Regions from separate parts of the Homo sapiens genome. Here regions 2 and 3 are each reported to be linked to region 1. Evidence: microRNA targets listed by miRTarBase, many of them from high-throughput screens and not tested one by one. Region 1 holds a microRNA gene; each other region holds the end of a gene's coding sequence.
Evidence for each region. The annotated mature microRNA hsa-miR-6827-5p reads UGGGAGCCAUGAGGGUCUGUGC and lies in region 1 at 7,686-7,707, shown strand. An mRNA with a match to its seed (bases 2 to 7 or 8) in the 3' UTR can be bound and repressed. Matches are read on the target gene's strand: a 7mer-m8 pairs with bases 2 to 8, a 7mer-A1 pairs with bases 2 to 7 and ends in A, and an 8mer does both.

Region 2: the mRNA of VAV2 is a reported target of hsa-miR-6827-5p. Seed matches in the 3' UTR shown: 7mer-A1 at 967-973 and 8mer at 1,100-1,107.
Region 3: the mRNA of ELFN2 is a reported target of hsa-miR-6827-5p. Seed matches in the 3' UTR shown: 7mer-A1 at 6,682-6,688, 7mer-m8 at 6,659-6,665, 8mer at 6,400-6,407, 8mer at 5,009-5,016 and 7mer-m8 at 4,012-4,018.

The regions. Positions count from the first base shown.
Region 1 is chr3:134,365,815-134,375,542 of GRCh38, reverse strand. MIR6827 (microRNA 6827) reads left to right here and starts at 7,681; the gene lies at 7,681-7,739. AMOTL2 (angiomotin like 2) reads left to right here and starts at 1,096. Exons shown (of 10, transcript NM_016201.4): 1 at 1,096-1,201; 2 at 4,049-4,843; 3 at 7,740-8,046; 4 at 9,116-9,260; 5 at 9,634-9,726. The coding sequence starts at 4,110. RefSeq lists enhancers at 1-236, 237-1,036, 1,037-1,836.
Region 2 is chr9:133,754,838-133,764,565 of GRCh38, reverse strand. VAV2 (vav guanine nucleotide exchange factor 2) reads left to right here. Exons shown (of 30, transcript NM_001134398.2): 30 at 457-2,672. The coding sequence ends at 504. Among named protein-coding and RNA genes, the nearest start is that of SARDH, 21 kb to the right of the region's middle.
Region 3 is chr22:37,365,451-37,375,178 of GRCh38, forward strand. It overlaps ELFN2 (extracellular leucine rich repeat and fibronectin type III domain containing 2), which reads right to left. Exons shown (of 3, transcript NM_052906.5): 3 at 2,510-9,728. The coding sequence ends at 7,622. Among named protein-coding and RNA genes, the nearest start is that of ELFN2, 57 kb to the right of the region's middle. RefSeq lists an enhancer at 2,588-3,554.

The DNA of each region.
Region 1 (9,728 bases):
AGGGTAAGTGGAGAGAGGAGGGCTCCCAGTGTCTGCCCTGTCCATCTAGGGAGCCTGGATTCTGATAGCCAGGGAGGGGTTTTGAGAATGAGAAACCAAGCAGCCCAGTGGTTGATTACCTGGTTCTCACTGTGTGTGACTCTGGGCACGCTGCTTAAGCTCTCTGAGCCCTGGTGTCCTCATTTACAACACAGGGATGATAACAGAACTCCGTTGGAGGGTGCTTGGCAGGGCTGAATCGGATGACTGGGCGAAAAGCCAGCGGTGGCACACCTTGCACTCTGCGTAAAGGGGCGCCTATTATCACCTTGGGGAAGAACTGGACAGAGCGCCTGGCGGCGGGTGATTCAGTTGGGTAGGTGGGTCAAATTGACCGGATTTTCCAACCCAGATTCACACTTCCTGTCGAGACGGTCGTAAAATAGCTGGCGAAGGTGTTTGTAAACAAAAGTGCATTCAAAGGTTGCCGCTGGGGGTGAAAACAGCGGGGGTTAGGGGAAAGAGGCTCTGTGGCTGGAAGCATTCACTTAGCCCGGGGCACTGTCCCAGCCCAGAGGATATGGATGTCTTTGCAGTCCCTCCTCCCTTTCCCACCTCCCCCGGTACACACACACGCACACACACACACACACACACACACAGCCGGAGTCCCCTCCCGCAGCAACCCCAGGACACGCGTGGTACAGCCCTTGCTGTCGTCCCGTCGATGGGTTTAGGGATGAAGGGTGAGAGCGGGTCGGCGACTGGGAGTGGAGGCGATAATGGGCAGAGTTGGATTAAATTGTCTCCAGCAGCTCCGAAGGCAAAGCATGGGGCAGGGGCGGACACACCGCGGCCTGGAGGGCGCTGGGCGCGGAGGAACGGAGCTCGGGGGCCGGGCCGGCGCTCGGCCAGCAGCGCCGCCTCCCCGGAGGAAGGCGGGGGCCGGGAGGAGGGAGCGGGAGAAGGCGGAGGGCGGAGGAGGGCGGTGCGCTGAGAGGTTATTTGTGGTTCGCTTTGATCCCGAGGGGGAACCTGAAACTCTCACATTCCTGGCATAGCAGCCGCCTCCGGCGCGGGCCGACCCTGGGGCTGCGCGCTGGGGCGCGAACAGCCAGAGCGTCGGCGCCACGGCCGAGAACACATCTTCGCCGCCGAGCTGAGCTGGGCCGAGCCGGAGGTTGTGGTGTCTGACTGCGCTGGGCACCCTCGGGCCGCAGCGGTAAGGAAGGCCGCTCGGCGCTCGGGAGAGCGCGCGAGGCCACAGAAACGTGCCCCAGCCAAAGCTGGAGTCTCGGCGCAACCCGGCCTTTTCCGGGAGTCGGAGCCTCGAGGATCGAGCGTCCTCGGGGCGCAGTGCGCCCTTTCGAGGCAGCCGCAGTGCCTGGCAAGGGCCGCTCTGCCCAGGGAGCGCAGCGCGCTGGGCTTTGCGGGGCTCTAGAAACGCGCGGGTCTCTTGGGGCTGGGGGAGAGGGGAGAGGGCCGACTCCGGAGACAACAGCCACAGTGTTTCGGGTTGCAGGTCGGCGGGGGTGGGGGTGGCGGGGGACAGGGATGGAGGCGCCGCTTGGAGCTCAAGTTGCAGGGTCCTGCGGGCTGATTTGGTTAGGTGGGGGTTACAGGTGCCTTTGCCCCCAACTAGTCCAAGAATTCCTCTTTGTCTTCCTTGGAAAATCCTCTCTGGAGCCACGAATTGGCCCTCACTTAGAAAGAATGCAGCCTGCTGTCCAGCCCGGTGACGTCAGCGTTAGAGTATTTGGAAAACAAAGAGGGCTCGAGAGGGAGGGAGGCGGACCCGCGATGCTTAAAGACCTCTCCGGGCCTCGGGCTACCCTCACCGGCTCGCCCCAGGCGTACCAGCGGCCACCGGTGCTCCAGGTCCGCCCGGGCTCGTGGTGGGGCGGGAGCCCTGGCTGGGGTGCCAGAACCTCCTAGCTTGGAGACTGTCTTTGGTTCCTTAGGCGAGCAGGAGCCCAGGCCAAGGCTGGAGACGCGCGCTGGCTTAGAAAGGCGGCCTTCAGAGAGCGCAGCGGGCGAGTGCAGCAGAGGTTCGCGGCCGGGGGCGCGGAAGCAGGTTTTTGTAAAGGCCCAGGCGTTTGATGTCTGAAAGGACGTGAATCTGAGGGGCTTGGCCGGGACAAATTCGCGATGAGAGGCCTTGGAGATGTTCCTTGCTCCCAGTCCGGGCACACTATGGAGCGCCTGGAATCTGTCAGGAAGGCTCCGCATTCCTTCCTGCCGCTCCCCTGCCTTCTCTGTGGGAGTCGGCCCAGAGAGTGATTATCATAGGAAATGCCCGCAGATAAAACTCCAGGGCGAACTGAATCCCATACGAATTGAATCCCATTTGCTTGCTTTGCCTCGGGTAGCTCTGGAGTCTTGCACATCTACCCCTCGTTGTGTGTGGGGGGCGCATGACTGGGTGCCAGGAAGGATGGGTACAGAGGTGCCCTCCAGACTCATCCCCCACTCCCCAGCTCTGGGCAGCTGGAGTACTGGGGTGGGGAGAGGGAAAAGATCGGGAATGGCTGCTCTGCCAACATGCCATAGCCCAAACTGAAGCAGGACACTAGGGCTAGTTTAGTGGCAGAGGAGGGGCCACATTCCTCCCACCCACCCCCCCAACCCCTGCCCATACACACAGGACCTGTGGCAGTGTGGATTCTGTTTAGTTTTCCCTGGATCCCAGTTTGGAGATTTGTGTTGGAAGAGGCTGTGGAAAGGAAGCTGGGTGAGAGAGGCAGGCAGATTTCCAGTCCATGAACCACTGGGAGCCCAGGCTTAGAAGGGAACTCCTTTCTCCGATATAATCTCCCAGCACTTTAGGCTCACAGTCCCCTCTCCCCTGCCCCAGGTCTCTCAACCAACAGCCTCCCCTTACTTCTCCAGTTGGCCCAAGTCAAGATGGGCTTCCTTGACACTGATGTCAAGAAAGATGCTGAGTGCCCATCCCTTATGTGCCTAGAGGACCAGTGGGGGCTTTTCCAAGTAGCGTGTGTGTGTGTTTGTGTGTGTGTGTGTGTGTGTGTGTGTTGGGGAGGATAATCATAAAATCAAAGACATCATGCCATCCTTCCTTTTTCCTGGAGCTCTCTTGCAGTTACTGTCAGCACAAAAGACTGACCCACTAACCTTAATGGGTGGCACCTTTTTGCCTCATCTTACAAAACCATTGTCCTCTTGAAGCATTTTTATTCATCCTTTATTCACCAATTCAGGTGCAATTACTCCTTCTTCCTGTTCACCTTGCAGAATGACTGCCAAGGTCATCCCATGACAGGGAGCCCCAGATTCATTCTGTCAGCAGCGCTTGATGAAGCAGAGCCCAAGCCCATCCTCCAGGAGTTCTCTGGTTCAGGGAGAGTGGGAAAAGTGGCCAGGGGTTCAGCGGGCTAGAGGGTGGTAGGTTGACTGTGCCAAGGCTCTGGGATGCCTCAGTCTAGAGGGTGGTAGGTTGACTGTACCAAGGCTGGACTCTGGCATGCCTCAGTCTAGAGGGTCCTAGAGGCCTTTCGCCTAGGGCTTCTACTGGACTGCATGCATTCTTTATCACCTGCCAATAAATTGGGGCCCCATCCACCCCTAGACTGAATAGCTAAGTGGTTAGATCTGAACTAGGCCTGCCTTAGAATTGCCCATCAGGCTGTTTGATGTGTAGCTGGCTGTACGGGTGGTGGTTCCTGGTGGGTTATCTTCTGGTTTCCTGTTGTCTCTCTCCAGGAATAGTAAGTCTCCATGAATGTTATCATTAGTAATCGTTTACCAGGATTTTCACTGTGCCAGGAGCTCGCAGGCCACTGCCTCTTTTTTTTTCCTCATCTCCATGAGTCAAGCAGAATTCTTTGCATTTTTCTGGTGGAGAAACTGAGGCTCAGAGATTAGGTAACTTGTCTTAATCAGTAGATGGCAGCACTGGTACTTGAACCCAGGCTTGTGTGAACCGCCCCACCCCTGCTCTTCACTTTTATGCTTTCCACCAGAGTAATAATGGAAATCCTGGAAAGCCTTCTCCTTTCCCATGGGTTCCCACTGATTGCTTTTCTCTCTCTCTCTCCCCACCCCACTCCAGGTGCTCTGGGGCCAGGTGCCACCGGCCATTGTCCAGGCAGCTGTGTGCAAGCCAAAGAAGCATGAGGACACTGGAAGACTCCTCGGGGACAGTCCTGCACCGCCTCATCCAGGAGCAGCTGCGCTACGGCAACCTGACTGAGACGCGCACGCTGCTAGCCATCCAGCAGCAGGCCCTGAGGGGTGGGGCTGGAACTGGGGGTACAGGGAGCCCCCAGGCCTCCCTGGAGATCCTGGCCCCAGAGGACAGTCAGGTGCTGCAGCAGGCCACCAGGCAGGAGCCCCAGGGCCAGGAGCACCAGGGCGGTGAGAACCACCTGGCAGAGAACACCCTCTACCGGCTATGCCCACAGCCCAGCAAGGGAGAGGAGCTGCCCACCTATGAGGAGGCCAAAGCCCACTCGCAGTACTATGCGGCCCAGCAGGCAGGGACCCGGCCACATGCGGGGGACCGAGATCCCCGTGGGGCCCCGGGAGGCAGTCGGAGGCAGGACGAGGCCCTGCGGGAGCTGAGGCATGGGCACGTGCGCTCGTTGAGTGAACGGCTCCTTCAGTTGTCCCTGGAGAGGAACGGCGCCCGGGCCCCCAGCCACATGAGCTCCTCCCACAGCTTCCCACAGCTGGCCCGCAACCAGCAGGGCCCCCCACTGAGGGGCCCCCCTGCTGAGGGCCCAGAGTCCCGAGGACCCCCACCTCAGTACCCTCATGTTGTACTAGCTCATGAGACCACCACTGCTGTCACTGACCCACGGTACCGTGCCCGCGGCAGCCCGCACTTCCAGCATGCTGAAGTCAGGTAACTCTCCCCACCTTGGGCTTTCCAACTCCTGGCTTTCTTCCAGCACAGGTCTCTCAGGGAGGAGAGCCTCAAGATCACAGCTTGTGTCAGAGCTAGCAAGATCCACCCCACCTCCAACCTGAGAAGGGAGAGCTAATGCCTGGCAGAGAAGAGGGACTTAGCTGAGGTCCCCTAAGAAGTTAGTGGTGTCCCTTGCCTTAATTCAGAGATAGGCACCATTGTCTGCTTAGCTGTAGCATTCAAGTAACTAGAGTCCCCAGAGTACACAAATTGCAGCAGGGGGTTAAAGGTTAGATTTCAGAAAGAACTTCCTAAAGGCAAGGTTGGGAATGATTGCCAAACTGTTTCCAAGTTAAGCAGGAAGAAGGTGGGACTTCCTTCTCTGGAGATTTTTTAAGAAAATATGAGCAGCTTGCTTTCTGTGATTATTGGGAGGCATTCCTAACTAGAGGCTGGAAAGGCCCAGTGGTCTGATTAGAGACCTCTCAGCATCTTACACCAGGGCAGGAGCTTACTTGTCTCTCCTCTTCATTTCCTGCCATATGCTCCCTGCGTCTGCAGCCTGCAGTGGGAAAGGATTCTGGGTCCAAGTGGGCCCTTTTCTGGTGAGGCTCAGGAGAGGCTGCTGGGCCATGGTAGGGACTTAGAGTTTGATTCTGAGTGTGCTGGGAGGCCCTCAGGGGATGTGATTTGGTTTACCTTTTCTAAATGCTCTCTCTGGCTACATGCAGAGCATGGTTTGTAAGGGGCCAGAATGGAAGCAGGAAGACCCGGGGAGGCAAGAAGTCTAGAGAGTTTGGAGAAATAAGTGTTCCTAGAAACAAGGCCCTGCCTCACGCTTCTCATCTTGCCCAGCATCTTTTCCAGAGAAGCAGACACAGCCATCACTGCTGCATCTCCCCCTATGGGAGTCCAAGAAACCCCACCAAGGGACCCCAAGGATTTCAGACTCTTCCTCTGGTGGCCCAAGGTCAAAGTCTGGTTCTCTTCATGCCTGCTGTGTTCCTTTAGTAAACACCCACTTTCCCACCGTCCGGCTTTCCTTGCTCTCGAGAAATGAGTGACATGATGGGGTTGGTATGGCGGAACCAGAGGTTGGAGCCTCATAGTTTTTCTCCAGCCTCCACCCCTCCAGACTCGCACTTTATCGCCCCTCTCAGGGCTCGGTCAGGAAGAGTTTCGGAAGCTGAGTGGTGGTTTCTTCTTTTGGACCAGCCTTATTGAACCCTGTCAGGAAAAGATAGTAATCACGGCAAGGAAGTAGACTGTTTGCAGGAGAACAAAAAGCAGGGGAGGGAGAGGACGAGGAGAAAGGAAAGCAAGTGTGAAGGGAAAGGAGTTGCTATTCTTTCTCAGAGCTAAGTCATCCCCAAAGAATGCCAGTTGTGTCTGCCTGGCCCAGTGCAGGGGGGAGCAAGTTCTTGAAGCAACCTTGAGAATGGCCATTTTAGCAGTGGAATGGAGAGTTTGAGCACTCCAGTGGGGACCCTCTTCCCAGCTCTTACTGGAAGCCCCACCTTAGGTAGTAGGAGAAATACATCTGCCCAATATCTCCTTTCAGATGATCCAGTGAAGATTATTTGTTAGGAAACGGGCTAGACTCCTAGCCTAGGGTCCTGAGAAGAGCAGGGGGGCCATAGGCTGCATGGCAGCAAGAGTCAGGGGCAGGCTGGGTGTGCATTAGTGCTGAGATGATGCACCCAGAAGGGGAATTCGGTTTTTGCGGGGCTTCTGGGACTTGGAAGATTCTTTGTGAAACTGAGGCAGTTGTGACACTGGGAATCACAAGGTCCCAGGAAGGCCCTTGGACTCCCCGTGCCTCTTGCCCTTTGCTCCTTCCCTCAACATGGAGCCCTGGGGGTGATGTTACACCAGTGCCAGAGGCCAATAGAATATTGTCCCCTGAACTCAGTGACCACAGTAGTCCAGAGGCAGCCCTTACTCCCAAGGAAACCAAGAGTTTGGGCCACATTTGTTCTCTAAACTGAGGGTAAACTGAGGCTCCTACTAGAAGAGATGGAGGATGGGCCACCATTATAGGAGCACCTGCCACCCGCCCAGCACTGGCCCAGCACTCTGCCAGGCCTTACATAGCGTCATCCTCAACAAATCCCAGCGAGGCTGGAGACCCTCATGATGCAACAGAGCAATGCCCAGTCTGTGGGGCTGAGGCACTCGCCCAAGGTTAAACAGCTGGAGCAGGGATTTGAACCCCTATTTGTCAGACTCTAGAGCTCAGACTCTTACCCTGACATTTGTCTCATTGCTCTAACCTTAACTGGAGTCTTCTAAAAATGACTCTGGGTGAGTGGGGGGTGGGGGGTGGCAGGACTTGAAATAGGAAGGAGAAAATGAGTGCTGCTTTGGCAGTCTTGAAACTGGCGACTCGTGTAATAGACACAAGGTTGCTGCTGGGGCCCAGCCACCAAAGTTGTCCTGGGGCCTGGAAGGTTATATGCTCAGTCATGATTGACATGGCCTCCAGCCCCAAAAATAACCTTCCATTGATTAGAAGTGTCAGGGTGCATTTTTTAAGATGATGTATTTAAGCATTAGTTGCTTAGGAGGCCCAGGATTGCTCAGGCTGATCCCCAAGGCCCCAGCCACTGTGAGGCGGGTATGAAACAAGCATCCTGACATTAATCCCCTCTAGCCCTGCTGTCTGACTCTTGAGAGCCTCAGGCAGAAACATTTGGAAAAGGCCTTCCCTACTGGTCCCTGCCTAACACTAGAGGGTTGAATAATTATCTGCAGTAATTTTAATAATATATTAATTATTGATAATAATTAACCATCTTCCCAGTATGCCTAGGAGTGGGGTGACCCCGGGCTGCTCTGGTGGGAGCCATGAGGGTCTGTGCTGTCTCTGAGCACCGTCTCTTCTGTTCCCCAGGATCCTGCAGGCCCAGGTGCCTCCTGTGTTCCTCCAACAGCAGCAGCAGTACCAGTACCTGCAGCAATCTCAGGAGCACCCCCCTCCCCCACATCCAGCTGCTCTCGGCCATGGCCCCCTGAGCTCCCTCAGTCCACCTGCTGTGGAGGGGCCAGTGAGTGCCCAGGCCTCCTCAGCCACCTCGGGCAGTGCCCACCTGGCCCAGATGGAGGCCGTGCTGAGGGAGAATGCCAGGCTGCAGAGAGACAATGAGCGGCTGCAGAGGGAGCTGGAGAGCTCTGCGGAGAAGGCTGGCCGCATTGAGAAGGTAGGCCCTGCTGGGGCTTCAGAAGGGCAGACCAGAAAGAGACCCCGAGGGGCTACCTGGGGAGTGGGTAGTCCAAGGAGAGGCAGAGGAGCCTGAAAACTGTTTGGCTGGATTTCTCCCTATCCCTCTGTCTTCCACCTCCCTCACTCCTCATGCACCCTCCTGAGCTGACTCCAGACAGCTGGGGAACAGCCGAGAGGCCGGCAGAGCAGGCCTGGAGCATGAACAGTTGCTGGCCAGTGGTGATTAGAAAGAGCCCATTCACCAGCTCCTTGCACACTCGCACCCTTGCCCTGCACACACCCCCTCCCATGGACACCTCCCACAGAGAGCCCTTTGTGTCCCCCACACAACAGCAAGTCTGTTCCAGGCCAGCCCTGGCCAAAAAGAAAACTTCTCCTCTTGGAAAAAAAATGGGCGACTTGTTGGAATCACAGGCCAGCTAAGAGCACGTGCGGAACCTGCCAGCAGCCAAGTGGGAGGAGCAGCCGGGGCCCAGCTGGCCCTCTGGGTGGATGGTGATGCCTGGGACACCAGGCAGAGGCAGCTCTGCCTGGTGCCCGCTTCTTTAGTGAAGGGTTACCAGTTTTCCGCTGAGGCTCAGTTTTAGCAGATGGCCTCAGGCCTCCCTTGACTGTCCTGTGGTGTCCAAGTTAGGTCAAACCACCCCATCATGGCTGGAGTCTTTCGGTGCCCACTTCTGGCCAACTGTACTCAGTTTCTTGGTGGAAGCCAGCCAAGAGTAGAATGTTTCCTTCTGGACACTGGGCACAGGGAAGCTGTGTTTAGTCACCCCGCAGGCAGCTACTTCCAAAGTACCTGGCCCTGGGTTCACTCAGCATCTGGTCCTTGGGGCAGCCGATGGGACCGTTGCTTGCTGGTCCCAGCAGTCTATTCTACTTCCGGAGGCTACAAGCTTCTGACCATCCCACCATAGTCACCTGGAGGTTTTGCTCCTGTTTGGTGGCCTCTCATCTGTCACCTTTTCTGATGGAGAGTAGTGGGTCAGCCTCGAATCACTCCCTGGGAGCTCTCGCCTTCATTCAGCTCTGCTGTCTGACTCTTGCAGCTGGAAAGCGAAATCCAGCGGCTCTCTGAGGCCCATGAGAGCCTGACCAGAGCCTCCTCCAAGCGTGAGGCCCTGGAGAAGACCATGCGGAACAAGATGGACAGTGAAATGAGGAGGCTGCAAGACTTCAACCGGGATCTTAGAGGTGAGAGCCAGTCACACAGGTGGAGGTTGGAGAACCTCTGCAGAGGACTTACTTCTTTTGTTCTAGAGAAAAATTGGGAATCTCTATTCTCTGTCAAAAGTGCAGATGAACTCAGAGAGCCAGGCTGAGACCCCTTTGGAGCTGCCCTGATAGAGAGATGCTTGTCTCTATGTACTGGGCCTAGGATCCCCTCAGGGATGATGGCTCTTGACAGAGGAGGCTCCCACCCATGGGGCCCTGAGCTGAGCTGGGGTTTCCTTATGAACCCATCCCCAATATGGAGGATACAGCCCCATCCTGATAGGACGTCAGGAAAAATCCCAAGCTGGCAGCTTCACCTGACACTAAAACATCTTTCCTTCCCTTGAAACAGAGAGATTGGAATCTGCAAATCGCCGCCTGGCAAGCAAGACACAGGAGGCCCAGGCCGGCAGTCAGGACATGGTGGCCAAGCTGCTTGCTCAGAGT
Region 2 (9,728 bases), not on the chromosome of region 1:
GGTAAAATTGTCTGCCTTTTCATCCGTTTTCTTAAACGTATGAATTAGAGTTATTAATCTCCCCTGACAGATGACCTCAATACCTGTGGGTTGATTTCTACTGTCTGCTTTTTCTATTGGTTTTTGTCATTTGGTCCTGACTGAATGCCAAGCTTGTGTATTAAGAAAAAGCTGTAGTTGTTCTGGGTGATGTTCTTTTCCTCAGGAGGGTTTATTTTTTTTCTGACTGGCAGCTGGAGGGTGGGCAGATCATCTTAAACTGGCCAAGGGTGGTGTTTTTCTGGGTTGCTCTTACTCCCAGGCAATGGTTCCACCAGGTCCTTCTGAGAACTCTGGACTTCCGAAGGGCCCCCCATCTTCATGAGCCTCTACTTGCCCTCACCCCAACATAGACATGCACACACCTGCTTACACACACACACACACACACAGACACGATCTTACCATCTTTTTCAGATTGGCTGGTTTCCTTCAACGTACGTAGAAGAGGAGGGCATCCAGTGACGGCAGGAACGTGGACAAGACTCGCAGATTTTCTTGGGAGAGTCACTCCAGCCCTGAAGTCTGTCTCTAGCTCCTCTGTGACTCAGAGGGGAAATACCAACCTCCCAGTCTTCCACTGCCCACAGGGATAGGGAGGGTGTTGAGAATCCTAAACTCGAACCGTTTCACTGTCAGCCTGCCCTCGGCGACCCATCACTGGGTATGCTATTGTACATAGAGGAAACCTGGGCTAGCCCCACCCAGAGCGCAGAGGAGGGGGCACCGACAGCGCTGCGAGCCAGGCTCTGGGTAGTGGCTGAGGCCAGAGGCCCATCGCCTGCCCCTGTCCAACTGAGATGGCCTTCAGGAGCCTAGGTTTGAACAGCAGATGCTGTCCCAGGAAGGGCTAGGGACATCGGAGGGGACCTGCCCCCACACCCTCTGCTCAGCCCCTGGACTCAGCCTTGCCTGTCTTTTCCTGCTGCTCCCAGGGGGAGGTGTCAGACCTCGGGAGGCAGACGGGACCAGAGCCAGGCTGTTCACTGTGGGCCCACTTGCCCCACTGTGCTAGGGCGCGGGAGGAGAGAGCACTGTGGTCGCCCTCTGCAGCCACTCTGGCTCCCAAGACTTCCCTGACTCCCCCACTCCCCTCCTTGCCAGGGGCACACCCGGACCCCACACGGCAGGCCCCTCTCTTGGGAGGGGCCTTTGGAATGATGAAATTCCAACCCTGCTGCCCGGTCAGCGGTACCGTTTCCTGCCCTCTCTCTGAGAGGCCCTTTCTGGAGTCCTGGGAAGGTGTCTGCCTGGCCGCGCTGCCAGATCAGTACATCTTTTGTAAAAACCCTGAAATGGGCAGGGAAGAAAACAGGGATTTCCCCTCTCTAGATCCCTGCCAGGTCCCTCTCCAGGAGGCCCCTCTGCTCTCCTGAAGGGTGGTCCCTGAGGGTCTGCCCAGCCTTGGCACGAGAGGTTGGTTCCAGCCCCTGGCAGGGCTTCCTTCCAAGGGCCCCTGCAGCCTACAAACTGGGCCTCGGGCGACTCAAAATAAGTGCTCTTGGGGGTGGCTCTACCCCATTACCTCCCCCAGCCACAACTCCTGGCCTTCGACTTCTGGCTGGGTTAGCCAGACCCTGGTTTCTCTACCCTGATGTTGCATGAGACCTGGTAACAGTGTCTCCCTCCCAGCTCCTTGCCAAAGCCTCTGTTGAGACCTGGGCTTCTTGTAGCCCCTTCTCCCTCTGGCCAGCTGCACAGCCTGTGGGAGGTGCCCGGCCCAGGCTGGGTGTGGGGGAAGCTGGTCCCTGCTGTGGGTGGCGCTGGGGACCTAGGGGCTCCTTCTGAGGTTGGCCTTGTGGCCTCTGGGCTGTATGCCTCTGGGGTGTAGGGAAGAGGCGGGAGGAGTCATGGGGATGGGGAGCGGCAGGGGGAGAGAGGGGCCCTCGACAAAGGCTTGGGAAATGAGGGGAGGTGGAGGCAGGGCAGGGGAAGCGAAGAGTCAGCCTTGGAGAGAGCACCCTGGGGCCTCCGTGTCGGGGTACACCCAGCACTTTGCGACCTGCGGCCCAGCAGGCGCGGAGGATGGCGGGGAGGAAGCCAGCAGCCCCTGTGTTTACTGTCGTCAGAAAGGTCTTGTGTTTTGGTTTTGGGGTTTTTGTTTTGTTTGTGTTTTGTTTGGCTTGTTTGTTTTTTAAGGGGAAAAAAGTTTGTAATTATTTCATCCAAATCTCCCGTTATATATCTGTGAATAATAAGAGATTTTATAATAGCAAGAAAATGATGTATATTTTAGTTTGTTGACAAATAAGTCATCATGATCACGAAGGACACTGAGAAAAAATAATTTAGAACCCTGGTTTTTGTGAATTTTTTTGTTTTGTGTTTCTTTGTTTTGAGATTTGTGTTTGGTTTGGTTTTTGCACTGCACTAAGGCAGGAGGGTTGGAGGGCTGGGTGCAGCCTGGGAGTCCGATGGTTTTCAGCAGGAGACGGGGTGTCCCCTGCAGGGGGCTAAACTGCAGGGGCCTGAGATTAGCTGTGAACATGTGGGAGCCCGATGCATGTGGGTCAGGGATCTGGGGGCCCCCCCAGCTGGCGGGAACCCCAAATGGACACAAACTGTACATTTGCCAATGGGTTTTTTTCAGACCATGGTTTTTACTTGCAAATAAACCTGAGTTCTTTTCTGCAGGAGTGGTCAGCCTTTCGTACCAGGGGAGGAGGGAATGGCTGGATTCTTCCGCCTAAGTCCAGCAGGGTCTGTCTGACTGGGGTGCTTGGATCTCAGGGTGGCCCAACCGCAGCAGGGTCTGAGAGATACGGAGGTAATGGTGCCATGGCCACCTCCCGGCTGGCACAGCACCCTGGGTTTCCCATGCGGTGCCCTGGAATTCTCCAGGTGGCATCGGGCATACAAATGGGATTCTAATTCCTGCCCCATCACTTGGGTACCTCTTGAGCCCCTGTTTCTTTACATGTATATTGAAGATAAAAATAGCCTCAGTGCAGTGGCACACACCTGTCATTTTAGCACTTTGGGAGGCTGAGGTAGGAGGCTGAGGTGGGAGGATGGCTTGAGCCCAGGAAGTTGAGACCCGCCTGGGCAACATGGCGAGACCCTGTCTCTACAACATTTTTTTTTTAATAGTTGGGCATATGGTGGTGCACATCTGTGGTCCCAGCTTCTCGGGAGGGTGAGGTGGGAGGGTCGCTTGAGTCCAGGAGGTCGAGGCTGCAGTGAGCTGTGATTGCACCACTGTACTCCAGACTGGACAACAGAGCAAGACCATGAATCTAAAAAAAACAAAACAAAACAGAACAAAAAAAAAAAAAACCTCTCCATTTTGGTGGGTTCTGTGGTGTATGATAGAGAAAACCAAAATAGAAAATGAGAGATTTATTTCTCCTTCCCCTCATGGAGGACCATCCAGAGGCAGCAGCTCCTTTGCCTTGCCCTGGTCCCAGAGCCATCAGGAACCCTGGCTCCCCCCTCCCTGATCCCCTGGTCTCAGGGGGGCTCCTCTTTCCTGATTCCCCATCCTCAGAGGCTCCTCCTTCCCAATCTCCCATCTTCAGAGGCTCCTCCTTTCCCGATCCGCCGTCCTCAGAGGCTCCTCCTTCCCGATCCTTCGTCCTCAGAGGCTCCTCCTTCCTGATCCGCCGTCCTCAGAGGCTCCTCCTTCCTGATCCCTCGTCCTCAGAGGCTCCTGCTTCCTGATCCCCCATCCTCAGAGACTCCTCTTTCCCGATCTCCCGTCCTCAGAGGCTCCTCCTTCCTGATCCTCCGTCCTCAGAGGCTCCTCCCTCTCTGATCCTGCATCCTCAATGGCTGCTCCTTCCTGATCCCCCATTCTCAGGGGCTCCTTCTCCCTGATCCCCCATTCTCAGAAGCTCCTCCTTCCTGATCCCTCATCCTCAGAGGCTCCTCCTCCCTGATCTCCCGTCCTTAGCATGCCCTTCCCTCCTTGTGGCTGCCTCGTGGTCCACGGTGGCTGCTGGAGCTCCTGCCACAGGGCCATGAGAGAGAACAGAGATCCCCTTACAGCTCTGGCCAGGAAACAGCCCATTTTCTAGAAGTGGAAACTGAGGCTGAGATATGTGAAGTGACTCATCCAAGGTCACACGTGGCCCTTGCACAGCTCGGTCTGATGCCAGAGTCCACGTTTCTGTTTGGGCAGCACCCAGTTCCTAAGCGATGACTTTTCTGCCTCTCAGGCCAGCCCCTGGGTCTCCCACCCTTCCTGCAGACTGGACCCTGGCCAGCCTTCGCCCCACTGAGGCTGCTGGGAGGCGAACCCGATGGGCAGAGTGAAAATGCCCCCTTCTCCAGGAGCTTCCAACCCCAGGAACCTCTCCCTTGGGCCAAGCCTTCTCCCAGATGTGCAGGCTGGACCATGCCCATCTGACCTGCCCTCGCCCCCATTCACTGGTACGTCAGCCGAGTCTCCAGGAGGGACCCCTTCCCAGGGCCGGCCCCACCCTCCTCACGCAGCCCTCCCTGCTGCTCCTGGCCCCCTGGGGGTGGCAGGCAGGTGTGGGTGCAGGGCGACCCCTGGACAGCTGACCGTGGAGTGGGTGTCCCAGGCTGGTGATCAGAAGGGTGAATCAAGGAGAAGTGATGGGGCCTTGCGTTCTGAGAGAAAATAAAATAGCTCCCATTTACTGAGTGTTTTCTTCTACCAGGCATGGGGGCTCTGGGCGAGCACATCCCTCCCCTTCCTCCGTCCTTGCCCTCCCTCTGTCCCTGCCCTCCCTCCATCCCTCCCCTCGCTCCACCCTCCCCTAGCTCAGTCCCTCCCCTAGCTCCATTCCTCCCGGTGTTCCGTCCCTGCCCCGCTCCGTCCCTCCCCCTCGCTCCGCCCCTCCCCTCGCTCCGCCCCTCCCCCTCGCTCCGCCCCTCCCCCTCGCTCCGCCCCTGCCCTCGCCCTGTCCTGGTTGGCTCAGGCTGCCGTGACCGCTGTGGCTCAGGCCCCAGACCCGGCTGCCTCAACTCTGAAATCTCCTTTCTTACGGTTCTGAGGCTGGAAGTTGGAGATGCAGTAAGGGAGGGCGTTGGTTCCTCCTGAGGCCTCTGCATGCTCATCTCAGAGGTCTCTCCCTCCTCTCATGGGGACCCCGTCCTCTTGGATTAGGGCCTACCCTCAGGACCTCGTGTCACCTCTTCCGAGTCCTTCTCAGAGTCACATTTGCGGCAAGTTCTCCACGATGGCTTTGCAGCAAGAATCACTTCCACTCACTCCACAGTCCTAGCGAGGGCCCACTCTGTGCCTTTTCGATGCCCGGGAAGAAACCAAATGGAAAAGCCGCCGCCGGGGAAGCTGATATGCAGGGAGTGGGGAGGGGTGGGGGGAGAATTGAGGAAGCTCTGGATTGTTTTTCTTTCTGCTCCTTTTCTCTCTCCCCCTGCTTGTCCCTCTCCCCCTCTTTCCCTGAATGTGTTGCAGTTTTCTACGGGACTCATACAATCCCTACTTGACCCACTTTGGGTGTTTTCTTTTCTTTCTTTTTTTTAAGAGATAAGGTCTCACTCTGTCACCCAGGCTGGAGTGCAGTGGCCCAGTCCTAGCTCACTGCAGCCTCACGGTCCTGGACTCAAGCAATCCTCCTGCCTTAGCCTCCCAAGTAGCTGAGACTACAGGCACGTGCCACCCTGCCCAGCTAATTTTTTTTTTTAATTTTTTGTAGAGATGGGGTCTTGCTACTTCACCCAGGCTGGTCTTGAACTCCTGGCCTCAAATGATTTTCCCACCTTGGCCTCCCAAAAAACCAAGATTATAGGTGTGAGCCGTCGCACCCAGCCTAGGTGTTTTCTTTTATCTATTAAGTGTTGCAAAAAATACGAATTTTGTGCTTGTGCTTGATTTTTCTCATTTATCCAATCAATTTGTATTGATTCCTTACCTGAGATCCAATGTTGAACAAGACCAACAAGGTCTCAGCCAGTTTCTAGTGGCATATCAGGCTGAGCTAACATGGAGGCCTCTCTTCCTCCACTGCCAACACAGAAATCCTTGAAAAAAAACATGCAGAAGGCATAGCTGAGCTGGAAAGAAGGGCCCATTCCAGAAAAAGAGAAATCGAAGCCCGAGGAGATATTGGGAGCTAACCCCGGGGCAGTCTCCAGGGTCTTGGCCTCTCTGGGCCTGGGACCGGTTCCAACACTCTCCTGGCATTGGGAGCCACAGTTGCAGATCCCCCGAGGCCAGAAGCCAGCACTGGGCCCCCTGCATAAAGTTAAGCATCTCAGAGAATCCCCATTGTGCAGAGGAGACTGACACGCATGGATAGTTGAGAGTGTCTGGAAAACAAAGCCAAAATCACGGAGAAGGATAAATGTTTTAAAATATTTTTTAAAGGTTACAGAAATAGAATAAAAAGGCACACCATACCCCACGCCAAATGAACCAAGAATGGTTAACCTTGGAGTTCAAAGATAAAAAGTAATCCACTGGGCATCCAAGCAGAAAGAACAAGTCTCTTAAGAGAAAAAAAACCAATCAGGTTTGCTTTAGACATTACTCCAGTAACACTCGACATTACCCCAGTAACGCTCAATGCTAGAAGGCAATGAACAATTCACACAAGGTCTTCATGGCAAGAGAGACCCAAGAGTTTGATGCTCAAATAGTTGCTCATTTGTCAGGCAGCAACTAACGCATTGCCACATGTAAAGACTCAGGGGCGGCCCGGCGGGGTAGCTCACGCCTGTAATCCCAGCACTTTGGGAGGCCGAGGCAGGTGAATCACTTGAGGTCAGGAGTTCGAGGCCAGCGTGGCCAACATGGCAAAACCCCTTCTCTACTAAAAATACAAAAATTAGCCAGGCATGGTGGTGGGCGCCTGTAATCCCAGCTACTCTGAGGCCAAGGCAGGAGAATCGATTGAACCCGGGAGGTGGAGGTTGCAGTGAGCTGAGATTGCACCACTGCACTCCAGCCTGGGCGACAGAGTGAGACTCCATCTGAAAAAAAAAAAAAAAAAAAAGACTCAGGGGCTGTTACTCAGGGAGCACTTGTTAGAACAATGACCAGGGGCAAACTCCGGCTGGATGACTGGAAAGCTGCCCCAAGGATTGGGGCAGAGTGTGGAACCGGAATCTCTGGAAACAAGTCTTTTTTTTATTTGTTTTAATCAAACAAAAGAGATTTCTAAGTTTTTTGCGTTCCTTAAAAGTGAAGGCTTTGTCAAACATTTTTGTCTACTCTGGGAAATGTACAATGATTAGAAAAGTGCATGTCATAATAGTTTCCTTTTTTTTCTTTGAGACAGAGTCTCGCTCTGTTGCCCAGGCTGGAGTGCAGTGGCACAACCTCAGTTCACTGCAGCCTCCGCCTCCCGGGTTCAAGTGATTCTCTTCCCTCAGCCTCCTGAGTAGCTGGGATTACAGGCACCCGCCACCACGCCTGGCTAATTTTTGTATTTTTAGTAGAGACGGGGTTTCACCATCTTGGCCAGGCTGGTCTTGAACTCCTAACCTCATGATCCGACCGCCTCGGCCTCCAAAAGTGCTGGGATTACAGGCGTGAGCCACCACCCCCGGCCATCATAGTAGTTTTCCAAACTTCTAGTAGTGCTCCAAAACCTCGAAAGTACTCCAAAACATCATAGCAGTACTCCAAAACCTCGAAAACAGACAGCTCGGAATAGCTTAAGAAGTATAACCTGAAGATTTTAAAATTTCAGAAATTAGCCTTTTATAAATTGTGCAGAATATTTATTTTTATAAAAAAAAAGATTATGTTTTCCGGACACATAGGTATTTAGATTACTTCTACCCTGCAAGACTCTCGTGAAAATAAAAGACTTCAAATAGAAAAGGAGAAAAAAGTCAAAGGGAAGAAAGGAAAAGCCGGTTTACAGCATGTGAATTGCTTCTGGACGCTCTGGTTCTTGAATGGGCCTGTGCAGCCTCGTCTGTGTATCTGAGCATTCCATGTCTTCAATACCAGATTTGAAAGAAAGAAATTGGAGAAAGCACAGAAACAAGTCTTCAACGCGGTGGGAGAGGTGCTGCTGCTAGGCAGCTGTGGTAAGCCCTGCAGAAGGCAATCACGAATGTAAAGAAGTATAGTGAGTTCTTATACCTGTTGCTTTGATGTCCATTTTGAATATAAGTTTAACTCTCTCACACCAGAAGCAGGGCTCGTCACCCTCGACACAGTTTACAGTTTTTTTATTGTTGTTTTCGTTTCCGTTTTTGAGACGGAGTCTTGCTCTGTTGCCAGGCTGGAGTGCAGCGGCACGATCTCGGCTCAATGCAACCTCCGCCTCCTGGGTTCAAGCGATTCTCCTGTCTCAGCCTCCCAAGTGGCTGGGATTACAGGCGTCCGCCACCACGCCCAGCTAATTTTTGTATTTTTAGTAGAGATGGGGTTTCACCATGTTGGCCAGGCTGGTCTCGAACTCCTGACATCTGGTGATCCACCTGCCTCAGCCTCCCAAAGTGTCAGGGTTACAGGTGTGAGCCGCCGCGCCCGGCCACAGTTTATAGTTCTGTGCCTGCAGCACTCCCCCAGTTCCTCAGTGTGGTCGATCCAGACATCTGTCTTGTGCCACCGCCTCCTGGTGACCACCTCGCTGTGGAACAGCTGGAACAGCCTGCTGGACCGACCCACCCACTGTGTGGCCATGCAGGCAGGCCACAGTGATGGCCTCTCAGTCAGTCGGCAACCAGAGACCTTGAGGCTGCCTGTCCTAACCCCACCAATCAGAACCCTTGTGGGAAAGCTGCTTGGGTAACACCCTGGACCCCAATAAAGACTTTGGCCCACAGGTGTCTCTCTCTCCCTTTCTCCCTCTCCATCTTTCTCACTCACCCTCTCTCTCTCTCCCTGTCTCCCTCTCTCTCCCCCTCTCCCCCTCTCCCCCTCTCTCCCTCTCTCTCCCTGTCTCCCTCTCTCCCTTTCCCTCTCTCCCCCACCCTCCCTCTTTCTCCCTCTCCCTCTCCCCACTGGTGGTTTAGCATGTGTGTTCTGGACTATCCCCTCTTATCAGCCCCAAGAGGCACAGCCCTCTCTCTCTGGATCTGGAAGGAGTGCGCTGCTCTGATTCCATGTGTCCTGTGCCGCTGCCTCCTCTGTGTCCACCTGAGCCACACGCCCCAGCCTCACTCTCCTCTGGGTCCAGCCTCTCCTGGAAGGTGGATGACATGGATATGACCTCTCCAGAGAGAGGCCTCAAGACTAAATTAGAGGAAAACAAGACAAAAAGAGATAAAGACAGTGGGGAAGGGAAAGAGGAGCGGGTTGGGGAGGACAGAGGCACTGGTTTCCTCCGTTTGTCGGGCTTCAATGATATTTCTTGACTTTTACCTGGAAAATCGAGTGATGGAGGCATAAGTAGACTTCACGGCACAAATACAAACACCAAGAAAGATAATGAATTAAAGTTGGATGAAGATGAGAGAAAGGAAGGGTGAGGAAGATAAAAAAATAGTAATACAGTTTCCGGCCAGGGAAGGAGCAATGCGTGTTGTCTCCAGAGGCTTGCCTTCTGCCTCCAGCAGTGTGTGCATTCATTTTTCTATCGCTGTGTCACAAATTACACACGTGGGGGCTTAACACAACACATTTATTATCTCATGGTTCTGTAGGTCATAGAAGCCCAGCCTAGGTCTCGCTGGGCTGAAATGGAGGTGTCAGCAGAGTTACGTTCCTTCCTGGAGGCCCCAGGGGGAAACCATTGCCTTCCCTTTTCCGGCTTCTAGAAGCTGCTGCATCTGTTGAATCATGGCGCCATGCTCCATCT
Region 3 (9,728 bases), not on the chromosome of region 1:
GCCCTGCTGCGGGGAAGAACATCAAAGAAGCTAGAGAAGGAAGCCTGCCCGGGCTGGAGAGGGCCGGTGGTCGGTGAAGTTTGAGTTACAGATATCTTGGAAAAAAAGAAGGAAGGAAAAGGAGGAAGAACTTATATACCAGCAGTTTAGCCCTTGGGCGAGGCTTGAGAAGTGCACCCCACTTAGAGGGCATGACACAGAACGTGCCAAAGTGGGGTGCCCCTGGCAACTATGGTCCTGTTTGCAGCACCCAGGTCCTTGTCCCACCTGAAATATCCAGTTCCTGGGGCCCAGCCAGCAGAGAAGCCTGAACCCAACATTATCCACGAGGTACAGCCACACTTAGAGACATTCGTCCAACAGATGGAGGAACACCCCTTCACCCCAGAAAAAATAACACGTTTATGCCATGAAAGTTCACCTTTTTGTCATCTATATTTTGTGTCACGATATCTGAGCACGTGTAGCGTTTCAGGTATTTGCGAATGTCCTTGAGCACTTACGAATAAACTGATTATTTGCAAGTAAGGCATTAATTCAGAATTGGGGTTTTCTTTTAAGTAATGGCTCACATGTTAAGATGCAAGCACCGGTGAAAATGTGTGGGCTCACGGCGTTTGCTCGGTTTTCAAATAATTGAAGTGTGCAGAAAGGGAAGCAGATACGCGACACTTATGAAGCGGGGAGTAGCTAAGGACATTTCCCTAATTGCATTTGTAAACAGGACCAAAATTAGCCCAAAGCCCCAAAACATGCATGTTAAATGTGCTCTGTTTAGAAACAGAATCACTTCTGAGTTGAAATGAAAAGGCAAGGGTGTTTGCATTTGTAACATTAGGGAATAAAAGTGACTTTCTAAGCCTAAGAACTGTTGCCGGATCTCCACCCACCGGAGCAAAGCCATCCCGGAGGACACTTCCACACTCCCAGGGGCCACAGGGCTCCCCCAGCCCAAGGCCGGCAGAGGCAGCTGAGGGGAAGGGCCTGGACTTGGACTCTCGAGGTTCGTTGACCCCTTTGATCACCTCTTAAGTTTCCTGAGGAGTAGAATGAGTCCTTCAACAGAAACAGCTCCTGCTGATGAAGAAAACAGGGACCCAGTGCGACAGGCAGGCAGCTGAGCAGGGGCTCCTGGAGCCCAGGGTTGGGTCCGGGGACCATAGGGCAGCCCCAGCTGAGGGGCCTGAGGGGACAGAGCCTGTCAGGGCCCAGGCCCTACCTCTCTGCGCCTCCCACAAATGTGTCCCACCGTCCTCCTCCTCCTCCCTTGGTGCAGGCTCACAGTGAAACCTCCCTCACGAAGGAGGCCTGGGACTGGCAGGAAGCAGAGCAAAGGAGGGACCCTGGCTGGCTGTGGCCCCCTTGGGACGGCTGCACTGAGCCTGTGTGAGGGCACGTGGAAGGGACAGGCGTCCAGCTGGGGCTCAGGCAGTAGAAGGTGAGCGGCCCCAGGCCCTGGGCCATCCCAGAGGGTCCCCAGAGTACAACCAACTCTTAATGGAGGCAGGCAGGGGGGCAGGAAAGCCCTGTGGGCCACCAGAGCCACTAGGACACAGCTCCTGAAGACCTAGGGCTGGGCTGAAGGCCACAGGGTGATATCAGGGAATAGCTCAGACCCACAGAGTCCAGAATACCCCATAGCAATCCAGGCTGAATACAGGCTTTCGTGGAGGAGAGTTTCGTAGCAATTGGAGAACAAGAGTCTGGGAAAATGGTAGGTGGGCTCTGCCTCTGGGAAGCAAGGAGGCTGGGGCTAGCAGGTAGGCCCCAGACTGGCCCCGAGCAGAGGCTTGGGCGGTTCAGCCTGCAGTCCACTGGACGCTGACCTGAGTGCCTCAGCCTGACCAGAGAGACAAGGCATCTCCTAAATCTGAGAAGCAGCAGAAGCCCCGAAGGACCAGAGAGGATCGCTTCCCAGCCATGAAGAACCGCAGCAGATGGCGGGAGGGCACCAGAGGAGGGGTGGGCCAGGGGCCCAGGACAGGCTGCCCAGGCCAGGCGTGGAGGAGGCCCAGTGGGTCCCACAGAGACACTGGACCCACCATAGACAGGGGCAGCAAGAGGCTGACCTCAGAGACCGTGGTCACTGATGGGGGGCTTTTCTCCCGGGAAGCAGCTGAAGTCTAGTAATGCCCCCACATGGCCCTGCCTCTCTGACAGGGCTCTGAATCCCGGGTGTGGGAGGCCAGGGCAGCAGAAAATCGAGTGACAGCACACAACAGAGGGATGTCTAGGCTTTTGGGAAGGGAGGTCATCAGGCCCCCAACCCATCAGACGGCGCAGTGTCTGGGTGCACACTGACCCTGGAATTGAGTTTCCTGCTGGCCCCCTCTCCCTCTCTCTGGCAGACCGCCTTCTTTTTTCCTTGACCGCAGGCAGTGACCCCCACCCTGTCCACTAAGCCTTAGCCCCATGACTGGGGCTCCCAGTGGGAAGGGAAATGGGGAAAAGGGCACCGAGCGTCATGGCAGTGCAATGTGGGAGGAATACAGCATAGACCATGGCCCCGTAGCTTTAAATAAGAAATTTATTGCAAATATAGAAATTGATTCTCTCCATACAGGAATCTCCGAGTTGAGGAAAACAATTTCGTGCCATTCAGTTTTAAAACAGGAAATTGAGGGAAGGGAGAGGCAGATACAGGGAAGAGAAAATAAAGTTAACCCCCACCCCCAAAAGAAGAAAAGGAGAGGGTTCAAGGCCCTCAGAGGAAGGAAAGTTTCGTAACACAGCAAGGGTTCACAGGTTCAGAGCCCAGGGCCTGAGCCCAGCTCTGCAGGACCCAAACCAGGTGCCCAACCACAGCCAACTTGGGGACTGGCGGCTCCTGAGGAAGGGAGGGAGGGAGGGAAGTGTGGCCGCCACTGCAGGAACTCCAAGCCCCTGTCCCAGCCCTGTGCTGGAGTGTGGAGTGGCAGAGGGGCAGAGGAAGGAGGAGCAGGCCCAGACCATCCTGCCCGTCCTACAGGACCCCCTTCCTCTCCCTCCTGCTCAGCAGGACTGCCTGACCTTTAGTGAGGCCTGAAGCCGCCTCTGGAGGCAAGCAGTATGGACCCTGGTTTTGTCTTAGAAGGGGCACCCAGGGTCAGGGAAGGAGTGTGTCAGGATGGAATCTGAGCATGAGAGTTAGAGGAGGTCCCCTCTCCTGGGGCTCAGCCACCTCTGGAGCAGCCACCTTGTCAGACAGGAGAGGTGGCAATGGGGCCAGCCAGGCAAGGCTGCCCTAACCTTCACACTGGCTTCCACGGGCAAAGTAAGCCCCTCAGGGCTGAGCTTCCCCAGGCTCCCCGACGGCTTGCCCCGCCCATCCACACTCATGGAAAGGGGGCTCTGCTGGGCCAGGAATGGGCAGGGGCAGGGTAGTAGGGGACAGAGGCGGTGCTTGGGGGACAGGCAGCCACTGCAACCCCACTCCCTCTAGTCTCGTCTTCACACCCACCCACCCACCCACCCTTCTGGCTCCTCTTGTCATTCACAGCTTGGCTCCCTGTCCCCCCATCCCACACAGGATGCTCCCTGACCAGCCTTGCCCCTCCCCCATCACCCTATTTTAATTTTCTGCAAGGCGCCAGTCACTAGGGAGCATTGTGTCTTATCCCTTCCCTGCACTTAGGCCCCTTATAAGCTAGGACCTGTCACTGGTGTCCTTAATTCCTGATGCCATCCCGGCCTCAGCACTGTCACAACCGAGTTTGTCAGCTCTAGGTCTCCTTTCCTCTCCTTTCCGTCTCTGCACTTCTGTTCACCCCGCTGTTACATTTCCAGGAGGGAGTGGGGCAGGCGACCAACTTCCAGTTGAGAACATGGGTGACTCTCGGCCAGCCTGATACTCCCCACTGCTGCTGCCCCAGCTGCCTCCCGGGGACGATCCAGGCCTGGCCTTCCCAAGCAGGTCTCTTTACTCCCACCCTCCTCGCTCCCCTGACAGCCCTTTTCCCAGACCTACCCAGACACGGGCTCCCCAGCCTGGACACAGGCTGCTCCCACAGGCCTCCTGCACTGCCTCAGGAGGGGAGCCCAGGTGAGGGATTCTTTGGTGGGCAGAGAGAGACTCTTCCTGCCGCGGGGAAAAGCAAGGCCGGGACCCGTGACGAGGTTTCCCCACCAACCAGGCTTTCTTGCCTTCATGCCAGACCTCTGTGTTTTGCTACTGGAAGGCCATAAGCTCCAACAGAGGGTTAGCTGCACCTGCTGTGCCCTCCCAGGAAGGAGCAGACCCATTGTGCTACTTCCCAGAAACAGCTTCAGAGGAGATTCTCCAACAGAGGCAGGCAAGCCCAGGTGTGACCTTGTTCCGGCCCAAGGCAGGAGGCCTCCCCGCAGAGGTCCAGGGCGTGGCACCCACACATCCCTCGCTCCACCGGGCCTCCATCTCCCCTCCCTCCCTGTGGCCCCCCCTGCCCTCTTTTCCTGGTGTCTGCCCTGCTGGCCTGCCCCAGACCACAGCCCAGCTCCACCATGCTCATCATCATCACAAACCCAGACCTTGGATGGCAACATTTTGTGAATACTTCCCTCCCGCCTGGGAAAAACTCATCCTGAGCAGGACGTGGGACACAGATGCAGGCCAGCCTCCGGGTGGGCTCTCCCCAAGCTGAGCAGTTGGGGCTCTGGCCTGGCTGGGAGGCCAGAGACCCGAGTCTTAGACCCCGCTCTGCCTCACAAAGAACCACATGAACTGGGTCTTCAAGGCCAGTTCCCCTCCTGGATCATCAGAGTCCTGCTCTTTGGAAGGGCCCCTGTCCCTGCAGTCAGAGAGTCTGAGGTTTCCTAAATATCTTCACGCAGAAAGGATGGGGAAATGGCAAGCGCAGGCCCCTAACTCCTGCTGCTGGGAACCCTCCCTGGGGCCCAGCCCAGGCGTGCTCCTTCTTCCCACGGGTTCCTTTCTCAAAGCCCCCACCCTCTCCCTGAAGCCCCCCACGAAGCCCCAAGCTCCTGGCCTCCTACACTCAGCAGTGTGACTGATCCTCCACCCCAGCTGGCCAGCCAATTCACCAGGCCCGTCTGGGAGCCCTGACTTCCTCATCTACAAAACGGGAACAAGCGGGACGGACAGACAGTCCCTTCCACCGGGACAAGAGCCCTTGAGGAGGCTTCCCTGGGGCTGCCCTCCCTGGCATGGAGGAGGGGAAGGAACTGGGGACAAGGGAGGTGGCAGTGGAGAGAGGGAGGGAGGAAGGGAGGTGGCACATGGGCCCAATGCTCAGAAACACAGGAGGTGGGTGTGGGGCAGGGCTGTGTCTTGGTGGCACCTGTTTTGGGTCTGTTTTTGCAGAGCTGACCCCTCCCTGGGTTTCAAGAGCTGCTCGTCAGATCACAACAGACAGAATGTGGGAAAGCAGGGCATCAGAGAGGGGGCGGGGGAGTCTGGACAAACTGGCACATACACGACAGATGTTTGCTCAGAAAAATACAGTAAAATCGTCATGCAAATATAACAGGGAGTCTGCTTCCTCACACCCCTGGCTTCTCTGCCTGCTTGCTTTTCTCAGTTGTGCCAAGGGGGTGTGAGGAGGGGTTGGGGGGCAGGTTTTGGGGGCCGGGGGAGGAGGTCTGCTCCGCGTATCCATGCCGCCCCCTCCCCTCCTCGCCCCAGGAGAACAGTCTTTTCTTTGCAAATGTCACCCTCAAAGTGAGCCCTGGGCTTCGTTAACCCCAAAGTTGGTGTGAGAGAGGTACTCAGCTGAGCCCGAGCCTCCTAGCCCTCTGCTGTCCTCCCTCACCCCCTGCCCCCAGCAGGAAGGTCGTTGGGGTCCCCAGGGGATGGCACTAGCTTTCCTGGTCAGAGCCCCTGCCCACCAACAGTGCCGGTCTTGGACCCATTCCAGTGCCTACCCTCGCCCCTCAGTCACACTCCCCAAATCTCAGGAAACCCATGTGGGCCACAGGCCCTAGACTGGGGGTCTCTGGCAGGGGCGTGGGGAGAGCCGGGGCCCCCCAAGCTGAGGTGGGTGGCAGCCAAGCGACATGTTGCTAGGCGGGCAAAGCTGCTAGTAGAGGCGTCCCCACACCCCGCTGGGCCAGCTCCCACCCAGAGGTGAAGGATGATGGACTCCGGCCCATCAGCATCCTGACTGGTCAAGACCCCAGTCTCAGGACCGCAGATTTGCCTCCCAAAAGAGCTGGCCCCAGGAGCTGCTGCCAGGCTGGCCCTCCCTCACCACCCTCTGCCACCGCCTACATGGACAGAGAACCCCAGAGCCCAACGGTCACTCTGGGCACCAACTGCCAGGCACAGGGTTACCATGGTGACAGAGGCTGGCTGGGAGGGGCTGGGGCGCCACGAACCCAGCCTGCTCCTCAACCCTCTCTCGGGTGGGGGCCTCACTGTTTGTGCTTTGTTTGATGTTGGGTGGGGGGGTCAGAAAGAGGGAAGTGGCCATTGCCACGGAAACATGGGAGCCCCTCTGGCCAGGGGGCCAGGCCTGGATGAGCAGCCCAGAGGGGATGGGTGAGAAAGCCCTCCTTCCCCGGGTGGGCGGCTGAGATAGGAGCCGAGATCCCACGATGGGGTCGGGCAGGTGGGGACACAGGCCATGGGGACAGGCAGGAAGTCCCCCATGACAGCTCCTCCCTGCAGCCCTCCAGGCATCACAGTGCACCGCTGCCCTTCTGCGGTGGGCAGGGGTCTCGGAGGACCAGAGAAGCTGGGGCCGGGAGCCTGCACCTGAGACGTCCTGGGAGCTGGCCTGCCCGCCACACGCCCCACTCTTCCCAGGCCACGTGGAAGACACTTGAAGTGGGCTGGTGGAATGTCGCCCTGCCTCGGCTCCTTTCCCGTCAACAGGACCCTCTCCCTTCTCCCGGGTGCCGGCATAGGGGTCAAAAGCCCCCCAGGATTCTGAATCACAGCTGCACACTCTGGGGGCACTGCCATGTGGCTTTCTAGGAAGAAAAAGCACCTGCCTGATTCCCAAGTCCCTCAGCCCCAAGGGACCACAGCTTCGGAAAGGGATGTGGGGTGGGCACAGGGCGGGCAGGGGTCCACAAGAGAGCTGCAGGGGGTTCCGGGACAGCACTGGGCTGGGAAGTTGGGGGACTTGAGGCTAAGCTGCTGTGTGACCCTGGGGTTGTCAACTCCCTTCTCTGGGCCTCAGTTTCCCCCCCTCTCTAAAGTGGAAGGAGACATTGCCCGATGTCTAATGCTAAATCTGCAGGTGACTTGACTCCCAGCTTGGGAAGGGACCCTCTCCCTGCCCTAGAGGGGCTTCAGTCCCTCTCTACTCCAGCTTTCTTGACCCCCACACCTGTTTCTAGCCCCAGACCCCCCAGACCCCACACCCTCTCTTGGCTTCCTTCCTCCCCCCGCCAGCCCCCCGGCCCTGCACACCCCAGCAGAGTCCCTGGGCAGCACAGTAAAGACGACTGGTTTCGGTATCAGTTTGTAAACTTTAAGGAAAATGTGTCTCTGTTTTCCTGTCCGTTATTGTCGGATGTTGGTTTGTTCACAGTCGGGTGGTGGTCAGGTGTGTGTGTGCGTGCGTGCGTGCGGGTCTGCATGTGCGTCCTCTCCTGGGCCTTGGCCCCCGAGTCTGCTCCCCGCCCTGGCCGCCTGGACCCTTCCCCCAAAAGGCCCCCAGCCCTCTGGCTCCGACCTCACCAGGGAGGAAGGGGGGGGTCACAGCTTCTGCTGGGCGGAGACCCCCTTCCAGTAATCAAGGATGTCATGCAGATCCTCGTCCTTGGCGAACTGGACCTTCTTGCGCAGGGCGTGACCGGCGGCCATGTACACCTCCTCCCGGTGGTGCTTCTTGTAGGGCCGGAAGCGCTCCCAGATCTTGTGCGTGCTCTCGGATGAGTACTCGGGGCTGGAGGAGTACCCTGAGTAGTAGTGTCTGGGGGAGAGCTGCGAGTAGGTGGAGTCACGCTTGGAGCGGGTCAGCGGCTTGAGGAAGGACACGCGCTGGCTCAGGCTGTCGGCACCCTCCTCGTAGTACAGGGCGGGAAAGCTGTGCCGGTGCTCGCTGCAGTGGTAGGCCGGCTTCACCTCCAGGTGGTGGATGCCCCCGCCCCCGCCGCTGCCCCCGCCGCTGCCCGCCGGCACCAGCGGGAGCCGGTCCAGCGGGCTGTTGAGGGGGCTGCCCTTCTCGATGTACTTGGAGTCGCCCTTAGCCAGCCCTGTGGCGGCCGGATGGTCGGGCACGTCCAGGCTAAAGACCTTGGCGCTCTTGATGGAACCACTGGACGACACGCTGCAGGTCTTGCGGGTCACGGCCGCGTCGGCGCTCAGCTGGCGCTGTAGTGGGTGGTGGGAGCTCTCCTTGTAGGGAGGCGAAAGGAAGCTGGGCCGCTCCAGGGCCCCGGGGCCAGTGGCTGAGGAGGCGGCAGCAGCTGCAGGGAGGGACTGGCACTCGAAGGCCAGCTCGGGGTCCCCACTGCTGCTGCCGCCTCCCAGAAAAGAGGCCGAGTCCAGCTTGAGAGCATCGATGCAGTTGTTAATGATCTGGTTGACCTTGTCCACCTCCTTGGCAATGGTGGAGATCTCTGCAGCCGAGCCCTGGCCGTTCTCGAGGTCCGGGAGGTCATCCTCGGGCCGAGCCAGACCGTCCCCGCCGGCGCCTGTGCGCACCTCGATATAGTTGCCTTTGGTGGCTACCTTGGGTGTGTCCAGCCCGGCCTCCAACCCCTTGGCGGTGGGCAGCTTCTCCCCGATCATGGAGGGGATGGAGGCCATGCGAGATACGGGCAGCACGGGAGGCTCGCCCAGCTTCTGGGCGGCGTGCACAATGGAGCCGGCATCCACATCAGCCCCGTAGCGCATCTCCAGGATGGTCTTCTTGACGTTGACAGACTTCTGCTTCTCCTCCTGCATGCGCCGCTTGCGCAGGCAGTAGTACACGGCTCCCAGCACGATAACCATGCCAAAGAGGCAGCCCAGGATGGTCATGATGTAGTGGGTGGTGGTGGAGGTGCTGGGCGCCAAGTCTCCGGGGACGGGGTCCCGCGTGGTGAAGGTCAGGCAGGTGTGGTTGAAGCGGCGGCTGTTGCGCAGCGAGGTCACGCAGAAGGTGTACTCAGTGTGCGCCCGCAGTTTGTCCAGCGTCACGATCTCCTTCTTGTTCTTGAGGGTCATGACGTCGGAGAAGTAGCTGTTGTTGTACTGCACGAGGATGTACATCTTGCTGTAGGGGTGTGGGATGATGACCACCAGGGTGGCCGAGGTGAACGTGACGTGGTGCAGCTTGATGGCTGGCCCTGCCGACGCATCCGTGGTGGACGAGGCCGGCGGCTCCACCGAAAGGATCTCGTCGGGGTTGAAGCCCGAGTTCTCGTCTGGCTCCCTCTGGGCGTCGGTGGAGTAGGGCGTGGGGTGGCTCACGGGCCGGGCGGGCAGCGAGCCATTCCGACACTTGGCCTGGAGTACGGTGATGGCGTTGAGGCTGTGGTAGGGCCGGGGCACCAGCAGCGGGTAGCCGGCAAACTCCCGCGGCGACTCACACTGCAGGCGGTCGTAGTTCTTGGTGACGTTGTTGAAGACCACCAGCCAGGCCAGGAAGCCGAAGAGGTCGCACTCACAGTTGAAGGGGTTGCCGGCCAGCTCACACACCATCAGGCTGGCGAGGCTGGCAAAGGTGGCACCGTCCAGGCGGCTGAGGCGGTTGGAGGACAGGTCGATGCTGATGAGGCTCGGGCACTCGGAGAAGGCGGTGGGCGTCACCACCTCGATGAGGTTGTGCTGGACAAAGAGGAACTGCAGGCGGCTCATGCCTCGCAGCATGCCCTCC